3 linked regions of the Homo sapiens genome follow. The protein of the gene in region 2 interacts with the protein of the main gene of each other region in a biochemical or structural test. Each region holds a gene or a part of one and is shown on either strand. Other genes may lie near its edges.

Region 1 (8,177 bases), on a different chromosome or scaffold from region 2:
CTCCAGCCTGGTGACAGAGTGAAACTGTGTCTCAAAAAAAAAAAAAAAAAAAAAAGACAAGGGCAAAAGGACCTAGTGTGAACAGGCAGGACAGAGGAATGAAAGGATGGAGAGGAAGATGAGGCTAAGCTGGGGGGTAGAAGCGGGAGGCAATTAAGAGCTGTAGAGAGCTCCTGAAATGATCCAGTCTGGCTCCAGAAAGAGTTTTAGGGACACCCTTAGCAGGCCTCCAAAGTAACCAAGAGACCAGTTGACAGAGTTAGAGAGTTGATGAAAATGAATCCAGGACTCTCAGCTGGAGTAGCCAGAGGGTACTGGTGCCACTGATCAAACCAACAGAAGAGCTAGTTCCATCTGTGGTCATGATGGGTGGGGGTGCTACCAGCAGCCAGGAGTGGGCAGAGGCCCGGGCCAGGAGCCCGCTCACATTCCCCAGAGACAGGCAAGTATGTGCTCAAGAGCATGGTGCTCTAAAGCCAAATGCATGGCTTCGATTCCCAGCTCGTACAGAAAAGCTGGAGACCTTGGGCAAGTTACCCCTGGGCCTCAGTTAAACAGGGATGCTAATAACAATCAGTCTTCACCTCATGGGGCTGATTTGAATGTTAATAAGCTGACATACCTAAGAGCTTAGAACAGTGCCAGGTACACAGTAGGTGCTCTGCAGTCGCTCCTGAGTTCCAATTGGCAAAAGTGAGGAAATAACCCTGATTCTCATCTCTAATGCCCCAAAACACTGGGCTTGTCCATCAGGAGACGACAAGTGACCTCGTTGGGCAGGTGAACCCAAGCCTTCCACGTCCTCAGACTACAACCCAGAATATGTAAGATTATCTTATCACAAGGGGATTTCAGAAGGGTCCAAATCAAAAGGTCTTTTCAAAAGACTCTAAAGTTATACTAAATTTTCATTCTTCTCTCTTAATTCTTCTTTCCAATGGCAGCTCAGAAAGATGGTTCCAAGATACTCTGAGTCTCTGCTTTCTATGTAACTGCCACTGGAATCAAACAGCTTCGCTCACCTAAGCTGGGAGTCAAATCCCAGGTTCTGACAATTACTGAGTTAAAGGCCTGATTCAATTCTGCCCCTATTGGTAGTTTAGAGGAAATACACCCAAGGGTCTTCAGGGACACTTCTCAAACTGACAGGTGGCTGCAAGGGTAGAGAAAACCTACAGGAATGACAGTTGCACACTGCAGCGCTTAATAATCGCAACTCCATAAAGTGGACAAGCCTACTGTTATTATTGCATTTCACAAAGAGAAACGGGCTGTCCAAAGAGGCTCAGGGTGCTATGGTTAATAAACCACAAGACAGAGATTACAACTCATTTCCAGATACCCTGGTTAATTCCCGTTCCACTCTGGGGGAAGAGAGATGACCCCCATTCCAAGATTGAGAGTGGTATAACTCCAACGGGGTTCCAACCCTGGTGCCCTCCTCTGGATTGAGGAAGAGTAAATTTATGCAAGGATTCAAATGTCCTGGGGTAATACCCAAAGGAGAACTCCCTGAGATTAATGACGCTCCACTGTGTATTTTAGGACTTGCCAAGAGATGATAGCCTTCCCCAAGAGTTCTTAGAAGTTGAGAAGTTACCAAGATCCTGCCAGCTCAAATCAAAGGCACGTTTTTAAGTAAACTGAATCAAGGTGCAGAGCCACATCCCAGGAATTAGAGAATAACAGCCATTTACAAACAGTAAAACCCAAGTAAATCAACCGCCTCTGCTCGCTCCTCCAGACTTGAGGCTGGGTAACTTCTGCTTTTCTTGGAGGTTCACGCGCCATCACTACATTAATATGCCTCCTATGCCCTCGGGACCGCCAGAATGGGAATATGAGCAGGTTGTCGCACAGAACGGTAATGGCAAGACATTTTCCCAAAAATGTGTTCCCATCAGATATTGAAATTCCAAGTATGTAACTGAGCAACGCTCCGTTGCCTCACAGCTCTTAAAACAACCTCCCTCCAGCTAATCCCCTCCCAACTTGTCCCCTACCTCAAATCGTAGCCCAGGCCCGGGCCAGGAGCCAATCCCCTAATCCCGGGCATTTCAGAAACTCAATTCTGAGCGCGCCCCTGGCCCTGCCCGTCCCCGGCCCCGGCCCCATCCCCACCCCCATACCCCGAGGCGGGGAATGAGAGCTTCCCGGCTTGGCCTGAGGCTCTTTCTTATGTAAATGACCCGGCCGCGGTGAGCGCTCAGCCATAGGGAGCTGCGGAGCCAGGTGGGAACAGACAGGTCGAGGCTTAAGGAAAAAAAAGCTCGTTTTCGGAAGGACATAAATCTCAAGAATCTCAAGTAATCCAGGAACGCGGCGCGTTGGCCTCTCCGAGTAACTTTTAGGGCAAACCAGAAAGTAACAACCAAAGTCCTCCCCTTACTCAGAGGCAGATCCTGAGGACACGAGGCTGGGCGGTCCCGAGGCTGATTTGGAGGGGCGGGGGTTAATGGGGGACGCCCCTCGCCGAGCCTCAGTTCCGGGCGCCACAGTTCCGGGGAGGGGGCGCGGCGGGCGGAGTTCCTCTGCCCCTTTCCTACTCCTTCCCGGGTCAGCTTCTCCTCGAGCCCACCCCCGCAGGGCCGCGGGGAAGGAGAAGGGAACCGCTCGTCTCCTACACGCGGTCCGCGAGCGCGGACGGCCCCCGGCGGCCCCACGCGGCAGCGGAGCAGCCTCCCGCAGCCACGATTCTCTCCACGTGCTCTCGCCGGAACTCGCGCTGCAGAAGGGGGCTCCCTCCCACGTGGGCGCAGCAATCCCTGACTACCTGCGGGGTGACCCGCCCCTCCAGTAACAGGGAAAAAGGGACTGGGGGAGAGAGCGTGAGCGCGTGCCGGAGCTCAGGGAGGGAGGGCGCCCGGCGGAGCGCGACCTCGGCTCCCCGCCCGCGCGCACTCGCCGGCTGTGCTTAGCGGACGTGGCTCCTGGCGCCCAGGAGTGTCCCGGCTGCCCAAACTTTTTCCGCTCCCAGGCCCGGAGTAGGGAGGAAGCGGGTCCCCGCAGGGTCGAGGAAGAGACTGATGGAGGCCAGACCACTTTGCCAGAGCCCAGCCTGCCGCCCCGCCCGCGCTGACTTACCTTCTGCACTTGGTCATGGTTGAGCTCCGTGAAGAAGTAGGCAAGCAGATGCGAGGCAATCATCCTGCCGCGGCCCGACGGCGCAGAGTTGGGAAACCGAGGCGGAGACGCGAGAGGGGAGGCGGGCGGCGCGGTCCGACTGCTTTGTGCTGGGGCTCGGCTGCCGGGCCGGGAGCTGGGAGTCCGGACGGCGCACAAAGAAGGCTACCGGCGAGGGTGCGCCCGGCTGGCGGAGGGCGCGGGTCTCCGGAGACGTGATTTTGGCGTCACAACTGCTAGAAGGCGCCTCAGTTCTCTCCTGGCGACGTGTCCGGTTGTCCCACGTCAAGGCGCTAACTTCGGCCACAGGATCACTGAGGCTCAACTTGAGAAGAATCTCAGCCCGGCTCCACTCGGGCAGTGGGACCTCTCCGATTCACAGGCGCGTGGCTCGGGCCCGCGGATTTTCTTAGCTGGGTGACACGATGTTGCCAGCGGCAGCCCGGGACTCCTGCGCCGGAGTTTCATGCAACAATGTGGCTTATTGAGGGGCTGCCGGCCCGCGGGCCTCCGGATCAGTGACGTGCGCACGCCCATTGGCTGCGCGGGGAGGGTGTGTGCGCCCACGGACCGCCCGCCGCCGTGGCGCAGCCAATCATCGCTCACGGCTCGCGGGCGCGGCCGCTCAGACACCGGAGCCGGCAGCCTGGGGAGGCGCGCCGGGGGCGGGGGGCGGGGGAGGGGCGGGGCGCCTGAGATGGGACGTGTGGTCCGTGGCTAAAGGCTGGGACGGAAAGGCGCATGAGCCACCGCCGCGTCAGGCTCGGCTATGGGTGGGGGGAGCGTGATCGCGGACCCGGGGTGTGGGGCGACTGGAAAAACGGGCCTCTGGACCAGCACACGCCCTGTGCGGAGAGACACTGTCTGGCATCTCGGGATCATGTGAGGGGCTCCCACTGCCCAGTCACACGTCTAAAGCATCCTAGTTCTTACCTATTGTAGCACGGCCGGAAAGTGAGCCGCCTTAGCTGCTGATTGTACTAGAGCAGGCAATACAAGAGTCGGCCCATCCTCAAAACCACTGATAGGATGTGAGTTTCACTAACCCCGTTTTACAGATGAGGAAATTGAGGCAAGGCCAGGGCTCACACCTGTAATCCCAGCACTTTGGGAGTCCAAGGTTGGAGGGTTGCTTGAGACCAGGAGTTCATGACCAGCCTGGGCGACATAGTGAGACCCCCATCTTCCCAAATAAAAATAAATAAATCAGCCGGACATGGTGGCATGTGCCTGTAGTCCCTGCTGCTCAGAAGGCTAAGGTGGAAGGATAGCTTGAGCCCAGGAGTTCGAGGCTGCAGTGAGCTATGATCATACCACTGTACTCCAGCCTAGGTGACAGAGGGAGACCCTGTCTCAAAAAGAAAAGAGACTTACACGAGGTCACATAGCTAATAAGTGGCAGATAGGGAAGAGAACCCTTGTCCCTCTACTTTAAGGCCCTATTCGCTTGCCCCATTATCCCATGCTGCCTCTCTAAGAGCCAGAGAAGTAGGAGGTAGAAAAAGAGCATCTCTGCAGCTCTGGGACTGATGATGTGAATGAACTGGGTAGATGGTAAGTGTGTAACTGGGTGATCTTGGACATGGGATGGGGTGGGTGAGGAGGCTTACCAATGCTGAGAGGAGTGGAAGCTCCAACCCCAGCTAATGCTAGACACCAGACTCCAAATTTAAACACACAGTGGAAACTGGCAAGAATGAAATACTGACTTCAATACAGATTTCAAGAGACATGACATTAGCACTGGTGGAGAATGGCAAGCCTAAGGTTGGAAAAGGTTCAGGGAAGGAAGATGAAGGTCTGCCATGTTCTACTGAGGAGGAGTTTTTCAAACAGTGGGGTGCTGTCTGCAATGTGTACAGCCTTAAAATTATTATATAAGTAATCAATACTCATTGTTGAAAAATAATATATGGATAAACAGGAAAAATAAACAAAAATCATAATCCATCTAGCCTCTCAGCAAAACTTCCTTTTTTTTTTTTTTAAAGCAGGGACTCGATATGTTGCCCAGGCTGGTCTTGAACTCCTGGGCTCAAGCAGTCCTCCCACTTCAGCGTCCCAAATAGCTGGGATTACAGATGTGCTCAGCAAAACTTCTTGAGAACTATGTACCCTTCTAAATGCACGTCCTCAACCCTCCTTCCCTATACTCCACACAGAATTGAGCTCAAACTGCTTTTGTCATAGTCATCATAATGACCTACATGTTGCCAAATCTTGCATTCTCTTCTCTTCCCTGCCCTTGTCTTACTCCTTCTCTCAGGGATGTTGAGGACAGTTAATCACATCCTCCATCTGGACACACCTTCCTCTCTCAGTAAGAGCACCAGTGCTCCACTCTGAGGGTTTCTGGCTAACCTCACTCCCCAGGCTCCTGAGTCCCTGTTTGCTCTATTGGTAAATGCTGGGGTATTCGGGGCTGCCCTCCACCCTCTTCTCTGAACTAGTTACAGTTTCAAACTCCCTGAGGAGAAACTAACTTCCTAGCCCCATGACTGTTATATCATATGCATGCTGATGACTCACCATAGTAAATCTACAGCGAGGTCCTCTCCTGGAGTTGCAGGCTTATTTCTCCAGCTTGCCATTTGTCATCTCCACTGAAGTGACTAGCATATCACACTTAACATGTCCAAAGCTGAACTCAACTTTTTTTCCCAAATCTTTTTCTTTCCCAGTTGTCTCAGCAAATGGCATCGCCATCCACCCTAACTCGTCTTCGATTCCTTCTTGCCACTCACCCTCACAGCCAGTCAATCCATCAGCAAGCAGTTAATTCCACCTATAAAACAGACCGTGCATCTGACCACTTATCTCCATGCCCTTAGACACCTCCTGAGATCTTCCCACAGAATACTGCTTGGCATTCACACTAGCATGCTTTCCTCAAAAATACAAACTCTTTCTCACCCAAGGGTCTTTGCTCTTCCTTTTCCTTCTATCTAGAATATTCTTCTCCAGGCCTGTCTCCAACTCATTCTTCCTCCTCATTGACGTTCCACTCAGATACCTCCTCATGATGCAGGGCAGGCAGGCCCCAAAATTTGGACTTAGCCTGGGAAGATTTTTGGCTTCACCCAGTAAAGAATTCAAGGGATGCCGGGCGCGGTGGCTCACACCTGTAATCCCAGCACTTTGGGAGGCTGAGGTGGACGGATCACGAGGTCAGGAGATCGAGACCATCCTAGCTAACACGGTGAAACCCCATCTCTACTAAAAAAAAAAAAAATACAAAAAATTAGGCGTGGTGGCGGGCTCCTGTAGTCCCAGCTACTCGGGAGGCTGAGGCAGGAGAATGGCGTGAACCCGGGAGGCGGAGCTTGCAGTGAGCCGAGATCGCGCCACTGCACTCCAGCCTGGGCAACAGAAAGAGACTCCATTTCAAAAAAAAAAAAAAATTCAAGGGCAAGCAGGTGGCATTAGACAGCAGCTTATATTGAAGTGGCAGTGTACATCAGGAGCAGAGGCACTGGTCTTTGCAGAGCAGGGCTACCCCATAAGGCCGTGTGCCCAGAGTAGCAGCTCAGAGGCAGCTCTGCACTCATATTTCTACCCACTTTTAGTTAACATGCAAATTAAGGGGCAGGTTATACAGAAATTTCTAGAAAAAGGTTGGTAACGGGTTGTTGAGTCATTGCCATGGAAAGGGGCAGTGACTTCTAGGTGTTAAATCTGGAACTCTAATCTAGAGTCTGGTCCCGAGTCTTAGCCCCCACCTCCAGAGTCAAGTCCCCACCTTCTACCTCATCAGGCTTTCCTTGACCAGTTTATCTCAAATAGTTCCCCAAGTCACTATCACTTGGCCCTAGTTGATTTCCTATTTATTTTCGCTATGTTCTTCCTCTCCTCAATAGATGATAAGCTAAAAGACAGCAGGGTCTGTGTCTGTCATTCCTTCAAGTTTGCAGTGCCTAAAATGGTGCCTGACGCATGGCAGACATGCAATAAACATTTATTGAATGAATTCATAGAAGAATCTTAGAGATGACTACTGTTCACATGTTGTGTAACAATACACACACACATAGAGTTTATAGTTTTATATATTATTTCCCAAATCTTTTCCCATTTCTCTGTCTACCCTAGATCATATGCCCAGTTATCTCTCACCTGACTGGAACAGCCTCATAACTGGGCTTCCCTCTTCAGATATAGACACCATAAATATATAGACTTAGATATTTAACAAAGATTCTTTGTTTGTTTGTTGTTTGTTTTTTGTTTTTTTTAGATAGGGTCTTGCTCTATCGCCCAGGCTGGGGTGCAGTGGCACAATCTCGGCTCACTGCCACCTCCGCCTCCTGGGTTCAAGCGATTCTCCTGCCTCAGCCTCCCAAATAGCTGAAATTATAGGCACTCACCACCATGTCCAGCTAATTTTTATATTTTTAGTAGAGACAGGGTTTTGACATGTTGGCCAGGCTGGTCTCAAACTCCTAACCTCAAGTGATCGCCCATCTCAGCTTCCCAAAGTGCTGGGATTATAGACATGAGGCACCACACCTGGCCCCAAGATTCTCAAAGCAGGAAATTATACAATCGCGTTTGCTTTTTTAGGGCCATAACTGCCCTCCATGTGGATGGGGAGGGAAAGAGGTCAGAGACCAAAGGCAGAAAGAGGCAGAAGCTATAAGGTAAGACTAGGACCTAAGCCAAGATGAGAGTGGGGCAGGGAGGAAGGTTATGGGTTTAGGTATTGTGAAGTCAGAGGTGGAACTGATGGATTTGGCTGGGGTGGGTGAAGGAAAATGAAGAGGAGGATGCCTGCTGCCTAGAATCGGATGGAAATTCAATAGCCTGGTGCTACAAAATGTATTGTCTCCAGGCAGGTAGAACCAAAGCCAGTGGGGTTGGGTCAGCTATGATACTTTCTTCACACACTAGTTTTAATGCCTCTTCTCCACTCCCCTCTGTGGTCCCATTTCATGTGAACCGGATAATAATCATAAGGAACTTTAAGTACATGTTATCTCTTACAAAGTTCCCAGTAATCCTGGGAGGTGGTTGGAATCAGTATTGTTATAGGCCAGGCACAGTGGCTCATGCCTGTA
Region 2 (8,120 bases):
ATCGTAATGCAACAGAAAACTCTGTTAAACTGTACACCGTAATTGGCATCTGTTAAAACAACTCCACTTTTGAACGAACAGCATTTCTCTCTCAAGATCTCTCTCTCTCTTTTGAATTTGTCAGATGGAGTTACGCAGGTTTCTCTATGATTGCTTTTGCATGCCATTTCCAAGTGGAACATGGCCAATCTTTGATAAAGTATAATAGATGAAAATCTCTGCGTGAAGAATATGCTGTAGGTTTCACACACTTTTAGTGAAAATGGATTATTTTCAACAGCACCAAGAAGTCAATGGTGACTTATTTAGCTCATTTAGAAGAAAGTCCTATAATACTCATTTGTTTAAAAAACTCTGTGGTAACAAAAGGTATATACACCGTTTACTGTACACAAAATGCATCTTTCCTGTAAACTGGTGTGTGTTCAGCACACTCCACACATGGCAATATGTTAGAATCTAGCCATCACATTTGATAGAGTTTTGATAGAAATGCATCCAATGGGAACAAACACCCCATATGTTGTAGTGTCTAAATAGAAACTCAGTGTAAAAAAGTAAAAAACAAAAATAGACAGGAAGGGAGGGAGTCATCCTTGAATAGTGATGGACCATGGACTATAACGTGATTGTGTTCATTCTTAAAGCACTACCCAGAGACCAATGGTGCCGTTGCCTTGGTGCCCGCCTGAGTCACTACGTTGCCACTGGCGTTGCTCCTGGATTTGGAAAGTCCTTGTAGACCCAGAAACTACCAAAAATCTGTGATCCTTTCCACTTTGAGTATCCTGATGCTGAAATGAAAGTTAAACACAATTTTAGAAATTGCTTTTGAATTAATAAAGAGAAAACCAGGAATGCATAATCCTAAAATGGTCCCCACCAGGAGCCTAAGAACTAAGGAAAATATAAACTCGTTCAAGAGGCACAGCAATATGTTTGTTGCAAAGCAATCTGTTAAAATATAGCAATATAGAAAAAAACTTTGTGGTTTTTGTTTATTTATCTTATTTTATTTATTTATTTTTTTGAGAGGGAGTCTCACTCTGTCGCCCAGGCTGGAGTGCAATGGCGCGATCTCAGCTCACTGCAACCTCCGTCTCCCGGGTTTAAGCCTCAGCCTCCCAAGTAGCTGGGACTACAGGCACCTGCCACCATGCCTGGCTAATTTTTATATTTTTTAGTAGAGATGGGGTTTCTCCATGTTGGCCAGGCTGGTCTCGAACTCCTAACCCCAAGTGATCTGCCCACCTCAGCTTCCCAAAGTGCTGGGATTACAGGCATGAGCTACCATGCCCAGCCAGAAAAAATTTTAAGTCCATAATACTCAAGGTACGTGGTTGGTACACAGATTTCTATATTTTTGTTTGTTTGTTTGTTTGTTTAGAGATAGGGTTTCACTACATTTTCCAAGTTGGAGTGCATGAGTGTGTTGGCTATTCACAGGTATAATCATGGTTCACTGCATCTTTGAACTCCTGGGCTCAAGCAATCCTTCTACCACAGCCTCCCACCCCAGTAGCTGGGACTACAGGCAGGTACCACCATGCCTGGCTTATTGTTTTACTCTAAAAAAACACTTTCTTTTCTTTTCTTTTTTTTTTTTTTTGTGATGGAGTCTCACTCTGTTGCCCACGCTGGAGTGCAGTGGTGTGATCTCGGCTCACTGCAACCTCTGCCTCCCAGGTTGAAGCGATTCTCCTGCCTTGGCCTCCTGAGTAGCTGAGATTACAGGCAGGATTACAGGGGCCCCCCACCACACCCGGCTAACTTTTTTTAGTAGAGACAGGGTTTCACCATGTTGGCCAGGCTGGTTTTGAGCTCCTGACCTCAAGTGATCTGCCCGCCTCGGCCTCCCATAGTGCTGGGATTACAGGCGTGAGCCACCGCACCAGCCCTTATTTTTTTACTTAAAAAATCTTATCTTTTTAAGTAAAAAAATTTTATTTTTTTAATATACACCCACATACTCACTGTGTGTGTGTATATATATATATAAATACACACACATTTATATAGCAATGCATATATATACAGAGAGGGTCACTGTATCGTATGTATACATGCAGTCGTCCCTCTGGATCCATGTGGGATTGGTTCCAGGACCGCTACACACATCCTCCTACATACTGTATATCATCTCTAGATCACTCAAAATACCTAATACAATGTAAGTGTTATGTAAGTAGCTGTTATACTGTATTGTTTTTATTATTTTTATTTTTGTACTGTTATTTAAAAAAAAATTTTTTTAGAGTATTTTTGATCCACAGTTGGTTGAATCAATCGGTGGATGTGGAACCTGCAGGTACAGAGGGTGGACTGGACATATAAAATATCTTGTCTAATATGCTGATCTAGATTTCCCACTTAATGTGGCAATGTATTAGGAATAGCTATGTTTTGATGTTCTAAAAACTAAAAACTATAGTCCTGTAGATTCTCTTCAATGAAAGCATCAAACTTACCTCAAGCAGTTTCAACATCAGCTATCAATGTTGTGATGGGCTAAAAAACAAAAAAATAAAGAAATATAATACCCCCAACAAAGCTGTGGGTGGTTTCATCACCTCTGTGCTAAGAAGCAGGCATGTGACTAAAGGTACAGACGAATATAAACCACACCTCATAAAGTTTATCAAGAAGAATGTGTCAGACAAAACACTGGTTACTCTAGCTTCTGTTTGTATTGCTTTTAAAAACAGCATAGAAGATAAAGAGGATAAACAGACTATGACAAGTAAGAATTGTGAATATTCACAATCTAAGGTTAAAAGTGTTAAGAGTCACTAAGAATACGTGTTGAAGACATTAGACCAGCAGCAACACAGCAGTACACATGTCTACCACAAGAGTCTTTCTAAAGTCCACTTCTAGGACAGAAGACAGAAGCAAATGGAAGTTCCGCAGGGACCTTGTTACAACTACAAATTCCTGGGTGTAAGATCAGGCAGTGCACACGGCCTCTAAGTGGCTCTCTGGGTGAACCATCAACAGTAGCCCTAGTGTCCTCTAAAGTGACTCTGTGATAATGGCCTTGACAACCAAAAAGGTATACGCCAGGGGGAGACTAGTGAACTCCATCTGGAAGGTCGGCAGTTTCAACTCTGGCACACCCTGCCCGACTGTGACTTCAGGTGGATCACAACCCCTCTGAACCTGCAGGATCCACCGTGCCTCACTGCAGTGCTGCATCAGACACATGAGGTTGGGGGAGGACATGCACGGAGGACATCAGGGCATCTGCCAGGCAAGACATTCCTTCTAAAGTTTTTCACTTTAGAAAGTGCACATGCTTGGTTCTGTGTGCCTCTTCTTGCACTACCTTTTATGCTTTCGGTAAAGAAACAAACTCTTTATCGAAAGGGCTCAAAGGGCCCCTGGAAAAGGGTGCAAGCAGGGGCTGGCTCAATCTCTTGTTACTGTCCACCTCACCAGGACCTGGAGCTGAACATTATGAAGGACTGTAGGCTCTGGCAATCATTTCCAAAGAACATCTACATTTGCCTTATTGAGCAGAGGGATGCTGGGCACACTAACAGGATCACTGGTTCTTCTCCTCCTGCCTAGCATTGCCTCTCCTCCAGACAGTATATCCATCCTATCCTGGAAGAGAGGGAACTCTGGAGACCTCAGAAGCAGGAAATGAGCAAAACAAGCCAATTTAAGCAGTGTCTTAGTATGTTTTCTGCTGCTATAACAGAATATCAGAGACTGGGTAACTTACAAAGAAAAAAATATGTTTTTCACAGTTCTGAAGGCCACGAAGTCCAAGAACCTGGTGCTGGCATCTGGTGAGGGCTTTCATGACGCATCATCCCATAATGGAAGGGCAAATGAGTGCAAGAGACAGACAGGGAATGGGGTCGAGCTTCCTCCTTTTATCAGGAGCCCACTCCCATGATAATGGCATTAATCCATTTATGAAGGCAGAACTCTCATGACTTAACCACCTGTCCAAGGTCTCGCCTGTTAATATAGTCACAATGGCAATTAAATCTCAACATGAGTTTTGGAGGGGACACTGAAACTATAGCAAGTAACTAAAACTAATCCTGGAAGCTCCTGATGTAAGAGAAACAAAGGGCCTTAGGTGAGACCATAACTGGAGGATACATTTCTTCAGGCCATTAGGATTTGGGCTCTGAATGATAACTTCCTGGGTGCCCAACACAATAAAGCAATAAAATAAAGAAGGCCAATACATGACATCTGAGACTCTCCTGTCTCCAGAGTAGACATCACACACTGATGACAGTACTTTTGAGTCAGTCTGGATTAAACCTCCAGATTTCAATCAACACAACACAACAGGGCTCTGAGCAGCCGGACAACAGAGAGAAGTTGGCCCAGGAGGTGGAATCTGTTTGTCAATGATGCACTATCCCCTTCACAGAAAAAGGAAGGTCCTGGCCCCCGAAGAACCTGAAACATCACACAAGGGAAGGGGCTCCAAGCACCCTCTACAAGACCTATGCAGCCAGAACCTACACAGGTGAGGGTCAGCTGCTGTTTATGTAGCATTCCCCGGGATCCACCTGCTTCCTCCTCTAGGCTGCAGAGGTGCAGCCATGCGGACCCCTCCTACTTCTATCTAAGAATCTGGCCAAGCGCAGTGGCTCATGCCTGTAATCTAGCAATTTGGGTAGATCACTTGACGTCAGGAGTTCAAGACCAGCCTGGCCAATATAGTGAAACTCCATCTCTACTAATAACAGAAAAATTAGCTGAGCACGGTGGTGTGTGCCTGTAATCCCAGCTACTCAGGAGGCTGAAGCACAAGAATCGCTTGAACCCAGGAGGTGGAGGTTGCAGTGAGCTGAGATCACACCACTGCATTCCAGCCTGTGTGACAGAGTGGAATCTGTGTCTCAAACAACAACAACAGCAAAGAATCTACAGAGCATGCACAATGAACACCATCTACAGCCGAACTAGCAAGAAGGTGGTTCACAGACATATTTTGTTGGGCCCCCATGGTGTTTTTTTCTCCACATTGTTTGCTAACATTAAAAAGGGTAATTTCATATGAAAATCAGATTTCTGTCCTTTTCAGATAGAGTTTCTAGCAACACTTGCCTCTTATTTGTTCCCCTTTCTGCCAATTTGATAGTCTTCAGAGTGAAGACTGGGAAAAATAATCAAATTTTTCTGTGGTCTTTCCACCCGTTTTGGGAACTTTTCTTTGCCCACCTGCCTTTGGGAGAATAGGAGAAATAGCTCAAATCATAGCTTGGCCCTGGCTAGCTGTAGAGACCTGGGCATGGCCTACACGTCCCTGAGTCTATCTGCAAAAGACAGACAACAAGGCGGTGACGACAGCCATAGAGGGCCGATGTGGGGACTGCGCAGGATGAGGCAGGGTGGTCATCCTGCCCGGTTCCTGGGGCTGCTGGACCAACACTGGTGTTTGTTTGCTCTCAAGCCTTTGTGGTCTCACAGGAAGCAACTTTCTCTCCTGATCTCTCATCTCAGAGCTAGAAAGAGTAAGTTTACACACACACATACAGACACACACACACAGACACACACACTCTCTCTCTTTCTCTCTCTCTCTCTCTCTCTCTCTAAAGAACTCCCTAGCAGCTGAAAGATCACAATCCGAGTGACCTCTAGTGATCCATGAAAGGCCAGGAAGAAGATTCAGAAACAAGTCACCCAATATTTCCTGAAATGAAAATGCCTCCACTTGCTCCGCAGACTGTGGGAGACAGAAGCATCGTTGGAAAAAAAAAATCCAGGCTTACGTAGGTTTATATGAAAGTCTATTAACTTTTCCTTCAAACAAAAGCAAACAGCCACAGACTGTATAATGGACTAATTACAGTGTGCGTGTGTGTGTTTAAGAAATAAATAGAAATAAAAGAAAAAGAGACCAAAAAAAACTAGTTTATGAAACTGAGTTTGCCACTCAGAAGCAGCCCACTTCATGGTTCTTATTTAAGAGAATTCTCCTGGGAAACGCTCCATGAAGCAATATTAGTTGTCAAACTGCTCCTCACTTGGTAAGTACTAGTGTCCTGGTTTGCAGAAGGCTTTTCTTTTGTTCTTACATTAAATAATTTTTTTTTTCATTTATAAACACAGGGTCTTGTTGTGTTGCCCAGGCTGGTTTTGAACTCCTGGGCTCAAGTGATCCTCTGTCCTCAGCCTCCCAAGGTGCTGGGATTAAAGGCGTGAGCCACCGCATCAGCCAGAGTCTTTTCTAGAATAGCCTAGCACCTTCTCTTTGCACTGATCATTTTCCTCCTAAACCTAGCTTTGTCCTGAAATGCAGGCAACACCTGAAAACTGTTGGCGATAAACACTGGGGGAAATCACAGTCTCAAGCTGTGTGAAGGAGGCACCAATTCGGGCTCATTTGTACAGAAGGTATCATGAGGTGTCGGCTAATATCCAGAGCCCAGTTGGTGTCATCAATGGAAGCTAAGTGGAGCTGGCTCAGCTAACAGATTAGAGCCACACTTAGTTATCTTCTGAATCACCTTTGGGTTCCTTCCATTGGAAATGTTAAGGTAATAAGAAAAGATTATGGTCATTATAGTGAACCACAAACCCTTAAGTAAGGGTTTACAGTGGTCAAAGGGTGAATGTTTTGCCTTGTTACCTCATTGAACCCTCACAACCCTACGCAAACAAGGCTCTTATTTTTATTTATTTATTGAGACGGAGTCTCACTCTGTCGTCCTGGATGGAGTGCGGTGGTGCAATCTCAGCTCACTGCAACCTCCGCCTCCCGGGTTCAAGCGATTCTCCTGCCTCAGCCTCCCAAGTAGCTGGGATTACAGGTGCCCGCCACTACGCCCAGCTAATTTTTTGTATTTTTAGTAGAGATGAGGTTTCACCATGTTGGCCAGGCTGGTCTCAAACTCCTGACCTTGTGATTTGCCTGCCTTGGCCTCCCAAAGTGCTGGGATTACAGGCGTGAGCCACCACACCCAGCCTCAAAGCTCTTATTATTCCCTCCTTCTACAAGTGAGAAAACTGAGTCTCAAGGACATTAAATAGCACTTCCACAATGACACATGGAGGCAGAGCTAGAATCCACTCCAACTCAGACCCCTGGGACCTCTAGGAGGGTCTGGGTGGAAAAGAAAGGTGTCCCAATGTCCCTAGAGTTTCTGGGATGTCATTTCCTAACCTTCTGCAAATAAACCAAATCAAAACTATGATTCTTCACTGACTGCCTGTAGACGGGCTGAACATCCAGGAGACTTGCCAGGGTTCCCACTGGAGGTGGGTGTGCAGGAATGAAAACAAGTCTCGATTTAATTGTTACCATGAAAGATGCTTCAGCGAAACTCACATAAGGTGTCACTCAGTCTTTGGGATTCTTCTCTTACTGAAACAAAACACTTCAACCCACCCTTGGAGTTCTACTATAGAACACAGAATATAGAAAGTAGAAAAAAATTCAAGTGTGCTGTGGACCGTTAAGGAAGGACGTCCAACATTAGTATATCCCTAGCCCCAGGCTTCACAGGTGTATGAAGTGCTAGGCCCTTAACAAAGACAAGTCCTTCCAATGTCTGTCGTAAGCAGAATGACCACAGAATCATCCTAAAGCTTCATTTATGTATTTAATAGAACAATGGCATTTAATCTAGTTCGAATTTCAACACTAAAAGCCCAAGATGAAATGTTCATTAGCAAGTGAGAAGAGTGGCATTTCTCAACACCGACTAGGGCTGTTTTCTAACATTTTCCTGTTTTCCATCATCATGCCTTTTTTCTTGTACAGCAAGTTAAATCCAAGAGTTATCAAGTCTTATGCTGTTCCAGCAATGTGAGTAAAAACTAGTAAATAAGGAGAGCTACGACAACCTTCTTGAGCCTAGAGAATTAAGTCTTTGACGCTACACGCAGGACATCTGTGGCACTAATAGGTGCTCGGTTATTCTCTTCTAGATGCTAGAACTGGAAGTCTACCCTCCTTTGTGGGAAAGGTCTCACGTGGTGGCATAAGACAGAAGACAGCTGACGCCTGCCTATTTCCAGCACTCAGATCTGAAGCTGGGGATTAGCCAGAGTCCAGTTGGCTGTGATGATCATGCCTAAGTGACAAAGGTCTGTGGCAGTACTGGTGTGCTGAGAGGACCCTGGCATCTCAAAGGCTGTCT
Region 3 (6,532 bases), on a different chromosome or scaffold from region 2:
GGTTTGCGGGTGGCGATGCTGGGGCTGAGTGACCCTCACAGTGGGTCTGCCCAGACCCAGTGCAAAGGCAGAAGGCTGGGGGGAGTGTTGAGGCCCTGGCCATGAGAATGGCCTCTCAGCTGCCACCGATCAGGATTCCCCTCACCCATCAGTGTGAAGGGTTGGATGGCTTATTTATGTCCAAATTCCTGCGGCAGGTGTTCAGTGTCGTCTGGGGTGAGGTTGGAGGGAACCTGCCTGGTGTGGGAGCTGGGGTCATGATGGGAGAGGGGGCTGACTACAGGGGCCACACACAGACAGCACATTTGTCCTGGCAGGTTGGCTGGTCTGCCAAATGCATGTACCATCTCCAAAGGAGGTCTCAGGGGGACAAAATCTTCTCAGAGGACACTACTGGGGGTCTGTGAGGTGGTCTGGGGAATAGCATCCTTTTTTTGAGATGGGGTCTTGCTCTGTGGCCCAGACTGGAGTGCAGTGGCACGATCATAGATCACTGCAACCTCAACATCCAGGGCCCAAGTGATCCTCCTGCCTTGGCCTCCCAAAGTGTTGAGATAACAGGTGGCACCTGGCCTGAGAGGAGTATTTTTATGTCCCCAAACCACAAATTTGCCCACATGGATGCATCCGTCCCACGTGCTCCATTTCCACATTGCCTGTAGGGCAGCTCATGTCTGCAGATTGAGTAGCAGTCCTGGGTCCAGACAAGCCAAGCACCCACTCCAGGGACCGACTCGGGTAGCACATGAGGTATACTGACCTCCTGACAAGCCCTGAGCAATTCTGTGACCTCTGTACCTCAGTATCCCCATCCGAAACTGGAGATGACAACTCTTGCATGAGATTGTTGTGAGGATTACGTATCAATATTTGGAAAATATTTTGGAAAAAACTGGGCATGCCATTGGTGCTTGGAATCGTGCCTGGCACACAGAGGGTGCTTTCAAAGCACTTAGAACAGCAGTACCCAGCCCACAGCTGGTGCTCACTAACCACTCAGAGCTGCACCCATCACACATCTGGCCTTTGATAAGAACACAGAACACAGGCACAAAACTGGTGCTTAGTTAAGTCCATGGAGGAAAAAACCACACTGCTGAGTGGGGAGCAGACTGGTGCTTTATATATACACACACACAGCAGAAGGTACAGGGCCTCAATAAGAAAATACACTCTGTGTTCAGGTGAACCCCCATCACCACCCACGCAGAACACTCTGGGCTGAGGAGAGGGAAGGGCACGACCATAAATAAAGACTAGAAGGGAGGGTCACTGCTGGAAGGGCAAACACAGGCGGGGCGCGCACTGCTAGGAGGAGACACGACCTGTTCTTTCCCGGGAGAGAGCGATGCAGCGGCACAGGAGAACAGTAGCCACGACTAAGCCTGCAATGCCTGGCGGGGGCACCTAACACGAATAAGAGAAGCGGGGCGGACACGAGAAGCGAGATTGCAGAGAGGGCTTTTTTTTTTTTTTTTCTGTGGCAGGACCCAGGGCTCTCAATTAACATCCATGAACTCAGAGCTGGGTGGGGAGCTGCAGGCAGGGGAGGCTGGGGCGCCAGATGAGCCGGCCGGGGACAGCAGGCGTCGCGCCACGTCCTGGCGTTGGTAGAAGAGGACATAGGCTGCCTTGGACTGTGGGGAGAGGACAGGAGTCAGTGTGGATTGTGGGGGTGGGGAGGTGGAATCAGAAAGGAAGAAGGGGAGGAGGTAGGATGGAAGTCACACCTCGATCTGATTCTCATTGACAGGGGAGACGCTGTTGTCATCAAAGTAGTGCCACTGGCCGCTGTCCTTGTTGCAGGCAAATGTTGTGTCTGAAAGGGAAGGAGAGTTATCCTCGCCTACCCTTCCTGCCTCTCAGAAGTGTCCAGATTCACTCTTGTCACTCCTCCCACCACGATAACCTCACCACTGGCTCACATCCCTAGTCACTCACTGGGAAGGTCCTGATCGCCCCCCTGCCCAGAACCCCCAGGGCAGGCCCCACCCACAGCCTGGCACATACAGTGTCCATCACGCATGCCCCCATAATGGTTGGAAACCGCGATGAGGTCATATTTGTACAGCTCCGGATTCGACTCATTCTGTGGCTGGATGACAAACTCAGAGAAGTCCAGGTCCCTGTGGGTGGGGAGAGGGTTAATACTGGTACACCCCCTCCTTTCCCTGCCTTCCCCCAGCCATCCTCTCCCTGGCCCCTGACCGGATAGGAAACTCCACGAGGGTGTCCAGCTTCTCTCGGGAGAACTTGGTGTAGGAAAAGCGTTTCAGGTGGATGATGAGAATCTCCGGCAGCATCCACAGGTCCAGCTTCTTGGTTGCCAGCTGGTGCTGCTTGCAGGAAGGGCAGTACCTACAGACAGAGCCCGAGTCAGCAAACGGACTTTTTCTTTTTTTTTTTTTTGAGACAGAGAATCGCTCTGTTGCCCAGGCTGGAGTACAGTGGCGCGATCTCGGATCACTGCAGCCTCCACCTCCTGGGTTCAAGCGATTCTCCTGCCTCAGCCTCCCGAGTAGCTGGAATTACAGGCATGCACCACCATGCCCTGCTAATTTGTGTATTTTTAATAGAGACAGGGTTTCACCATGTTGGCCAGGCTGGCCTTGAATTCCTGACCTCAGGTGATCCACCCGTGTCGGCCTCCCAAGGTACTCGGATGACAGGCATGAGCCACAATGCCCAGCCAAAACAGACTTTTTCTGAGCACCTACTGTGCGCCCTTTGTACTGCCTCTCACGTGCCATGTCTGGCTCACAGAAACACTGCTCTTACTATTAGCCCATCTAGTATTCTAGTTTGCTCTGTTCCTGTTAAAATCCTTTCACTCACTCGTCAAGTGCTTACTATCTTTTGTATATGTGCTCATACTATTTTTTGTATTTTTGTTTGATTTCTGTTCCATGAGATGCTAGTCTTATTTTAGAGCCCACCTCTATCCTTCTAGTTTCCTCTCTTCGTATTTTAGTCATTCATTCACTCCCCAGTATTTATTGATTGCTTGTTTAACCCTTTGGAACTATTTTGTATTTCTGTTCCATTTCTGCTCCACGGACATGCTGCTCTTATTTCTGAGACTAGGGAGTGTGGTTTTGGTTCTCTTTTTGTTTATTCTGCAAGTGTCTACTGAGCATCAACCGAACACTCAACACTATTATAAACAGGTAGAAGCAACACACAGTGAACTTAAGTCTTCACCCTCGAGGAGTTGACTCTAACGAAGATGACAAATAACACAAAAGTGGATACAGGACATCACATCAAGTGGCATCGCTGAGCTAGAAAGTAATGCTTGGCTAGGAAGAAAAGAGCAGAGAGGGGATGGAGAGGGATGGTGGGGAAGGGTGATTTTTAACAGGGTAGTCAGAGGAGGTCTCTCTGATGAGGTCACATTTGATCGGAGACCTGAGCATCGTAAGGAGTGAAGTCCTGTAGATCACTGGGAACAACATTCCTGGAGAAGGAACAGCACAGGCCAAGGCTCTGGGGTAGGAGTCTGCTCAGGAGATTGGTGGCCAGGTTGGCAAGAAGGGTTTGAGTGTGGAGGAGGGAGGAGGAAGGTATACTTAAAGAGCTAAATATAGGCCAGGTGTGGTGGCTCACGCCTGTAATCCCAGCACTTTGGAAGGCCAAGGCGGGTGGATCATCTTTAGTCAGGAGTTCGAGACCAGCCTGGCCAACGTGGCAAAACCTGTTTCTACTAAAAATATAAAAATTAGCCAGGCATGGTAGTGGGTGCCTATAATCCCAGCTACTCAGGAGACTTAGGCAGGAGAACAGCTTGATCCTGGGAGGCAGAGGTTGCACTGAGCCGAGATTGTACCACTGCACTTCAGCCTGGGTTGACAGAGCCAGACTCTGTCTCAAAAAAAAAAAAAAAAAGCTAAATATAGTAGTTCCATCCAATGAAACCCCCACACACAGGCCCCGCTCTGGCCCCTCACCAGGGGTTTTCCTTCTCCAGGGTCTCCACAGTGGTGAAGAGCTCAATGCACTCCTGCAGCCGCACGGGAGCCTTCTTCATCACGTACCCGACGCAGTCATGCTTCACGTAGCCCTAGGATTGGGTGAACAGACAACCAGATGGCCGGCTGTGAGGACAGATGGAGAAATGGGGAGTGGGGGCCCAGCGGGGGAGACACACACTGAGTGGGTCAGAGCACCGACTTTGAAGCTAGGAACCTCAGGCCCTGGAGCTCTCAGTAGGTGTTCAGGCCCCAAGGCCAAGCTTGACCTGGATCTCTTGGCTCTGTTCCCAGCTAGAGGAGTTGTGGGGAGGATGTACGAAGAGTTGAGGGGCAAGAGCTGGAAGTACCCCCCATCCCTGGGATCTCATTTACCTCAGCCTCTACCTCGTCATAGTAACGCTTCTTCATCTCTGGCTCCCAGTCGATAGCAATGTACGGCTGGGCTGGGGGTGAGGGAGAGGTGGTCATGGATCCTGCTGCCAGGAAATCTCCCCTCCAGCCTCCCCAGCCCTCGCTGATAGCCAAAGGAAATACCATGGACTTCTTCAGGGGAGGTTGTGCGGTCGCTGGTCCCATTGGAGTTCACCGTCTGCAGGGTGAACAGCTGCTTGCGTCGTCGCCTTGGGGGCCACTGAGATGTGCCAAGGCAATTGTCCAGGAGGAACGGGCACCTGTTCGTGACTCCAGAGCTGGGCCCAGCCTGCTCTGGCTCAGGGTCTCGGAGGCTGCCCCCAGTTGAGGGCCCAGGGACGTCATCTTTATCCTCCTCGTCATCTTCTAGGACAGGAGGATGTCAGAGATGGGAAGGTGTGAGCCTCAAGTGCTAAGCTGCAATGCACACCTAGACGAACCCTACGTGGGTCAGACCTAACCCAGAGCCCCCGCCCACTGACTGTTAGCCCCCTCACCTTTCTCATCCCCATCGTCCTCATCATCTGAGTTGGGTTTGGTCACGTAGCGTCTGCAACAGAGCAGAGGAGACTCCCAAGACGGGTACAAGGACAGTGGGGATAGAGCCCGGGATTTTACTTAAGATAATGGGAAGCCATTGGTAGATCCACATGTAAACCGTTCTGAATCTGAGGTGTGAGAGGGCTGAAGGGGTGACGCGTAAATGCATGAAGAGGCCAAGGCTGTCAGCAGTGGCCTGAGAATGAAGGAACTTGTGTCCCAGTCAGAGGTGTGGAGTGTGATTAGCTGGGCGTGGTGGCGCGCGGCTGTAATTGCAGCTATTTGGGAGGCTGAGGCAGGAGAATCGCTTGAATCCGGGAGATGGAGGTTGCAGTGAGCCAAGATCATGTCACTACACTCCAGCCTGGGCAACAGAGCAAGACTCCATCTCAAAAAAAAAAAAAAAAAAAGGTATGGAGCGTGGACTTTTACTCTAATAAGCCACTGCTAGACAAGACACATACCGGCTGTAACTTCCCATCAGGGAAAGCCTCTGGGGAATGACTTTTGAATGCAAAATGAGGGGGGAGAATTCTGATAACACAATGCTTTGTGTGCCACAGTAAAGACTCTAGATTTTAGGCAAAATGAAAATTTGTCAGCAAAAAGACAAAAAAACCAAGACTCTCCCAGGAGGGACAACAGTCTCCAGGAGAGACAACTGAAGACAAGATGAAGTTGTCTGTTTTGTGCATCTTGTTCACCTCTGTATCCCTAGCACCCAAGACAGGCAGTAGCAAAGCCAGAGGTCTAGAGAAAGAAAAAACCCTACAAGTTCTTCTATGGCCATGTTAAGTTTGGACTGTCTTTTGTTTGTTACAGGGGAGGTGTCAAATAAGCAGCTAAACACCCAAGTCGGAGTTCAGACCCCTCCGCCCCCCACCCCCGGGGAAGAGGACACTTACGAGAGCCGGTACATCAGGACGTTATACAGGCCCTCCCAGGTGAAGCGGTCCCGGGGCACTGATACCAGGAGGGGGTGTCCAAAAAGCATCAGGCCGTAGTAGGAGTTGTTGTAGTCACGGGCAGGGGTGCGCTCCCGCAGGTAGACAGGAACCACGATGTCCTCTCTTGAGCCCTCAATGGCCTCAATGCGACCTGACACCTCATAGCTGTGGGGGGTGGACAGCAGGCACACCTGATCAGGGCCCCCAGAGACTCCCTGACTCTGCCCTGGCTGCCCCACCCACTCATCCTCACAGCCTGAAGGCATTTTTATTTTTATTTATTTATTTATTTATTTTTGAGACGGAGTCTCGCTCTGTTGCCCAGGCTGCAGTGCAGTGGCACGATCTCGGCTCACTGCAAGCTCCGCCTCCCGGGTTCATGCCATTCTCCTGCCTCAGCCTCCCGAGTAGCTGGGACTACAGGCACCTGCCACCACGCCCGGCTAATTTTTTGTATTTTTAGTAGAGACGGGGTTTCACCGTGTTAGCCAGGATGGTCTCCATCTCCTGACCTCGTGATCTGCCTGCTTCAGCCTCCCAAAGTGCTGGGATTACAGGCGTGAGCCACCGCGCCCGGCTTTATTTATTTTTGAGATGGAGTTTTGCCCTGTCGCCCAGACTGGAGTGCAGTGGCGTGATCTTGGCTCACTTGAACCTCTCGGG

The links. Proteins that work in one complex are often made in the same cells at the same time.
Region 1: the proteins of PROM1 (region 2) and HK2 form a complex in vitro, tested with the Homo sapiens proteins (one study listed by BioGRID).
Region 3: the proteins of PROM1 (region 2) and USP11 form a complex in vitro, tested with the Homo sapiens proteins (one study listed by BioGRID).

What each region holds. Positions count from the first base shown.
Region 1 is NC_000002.12:74,829,551-74,837,727, reverse strand, and holds the start of HK2 (hexokinase-2), read right to left. Parts: upstream 3,602-8,177; 5' UTR 3,148-3,601; coding exon 3,085-3,147; intron 2,559-3,084; exon of another isoform or gene 2,390-2,558; intron 1-2,389. UniProt on the Homo sapiens protein: Catalyzes the phosphorylation of hexose, such as D-glucose and D-fructose, to hexose 6-phosphate (D-glucose 6-phosphate and D-fructose 6-phosphate, respectively).
Region 2 is NC_000004.12:15,968,575-15,976,694, forward strand, and holds part of PROM1 (prominin-1 isoform 1 precursor), read right to left. Parts: intron 2,509-8,120; coding exon 2,493-2,508; 3' UTR 2,469-2,492; intron 795-2,468; 3' UTR 1-794. UniProt on the Homo sapiens protein: May play a role in cell differentiation, proliferation and apoptosis. Binds cholesterol in cholesterol-containing plasma membrane microdomains and may play a role in the organization of the apical plasma membrane in epithelial cells.
Region 3 is NC_000023.11:47,242,898-47,249,429, reverse strand, and holds the end of USP11 (ubiquitin carboxyl-terminal hydrolase 11), read right to left. Parts: intron 6,035-6,532; coding exon 5,828-6,034; intron 4,933-5,827; coding exon 4,880-4,932; intron 4,749-4,879; coding exon 4,506-4,748; intron 4,415-4,505; coding exon 4,344-4,414; intron 4,061-4,343; coding exon 3,948-4,060; intron 2,359-3,947; coding exon 2,209-2,358; intron 2,127-2,208; coding exon 2,011-2,126; intron 1,820-2,010; coding exon 1,731-1,819; intron 1,638-1,730; coding exon 1,500-1,637; 3' UTR 1,102-1,499; downstream 1-1,101.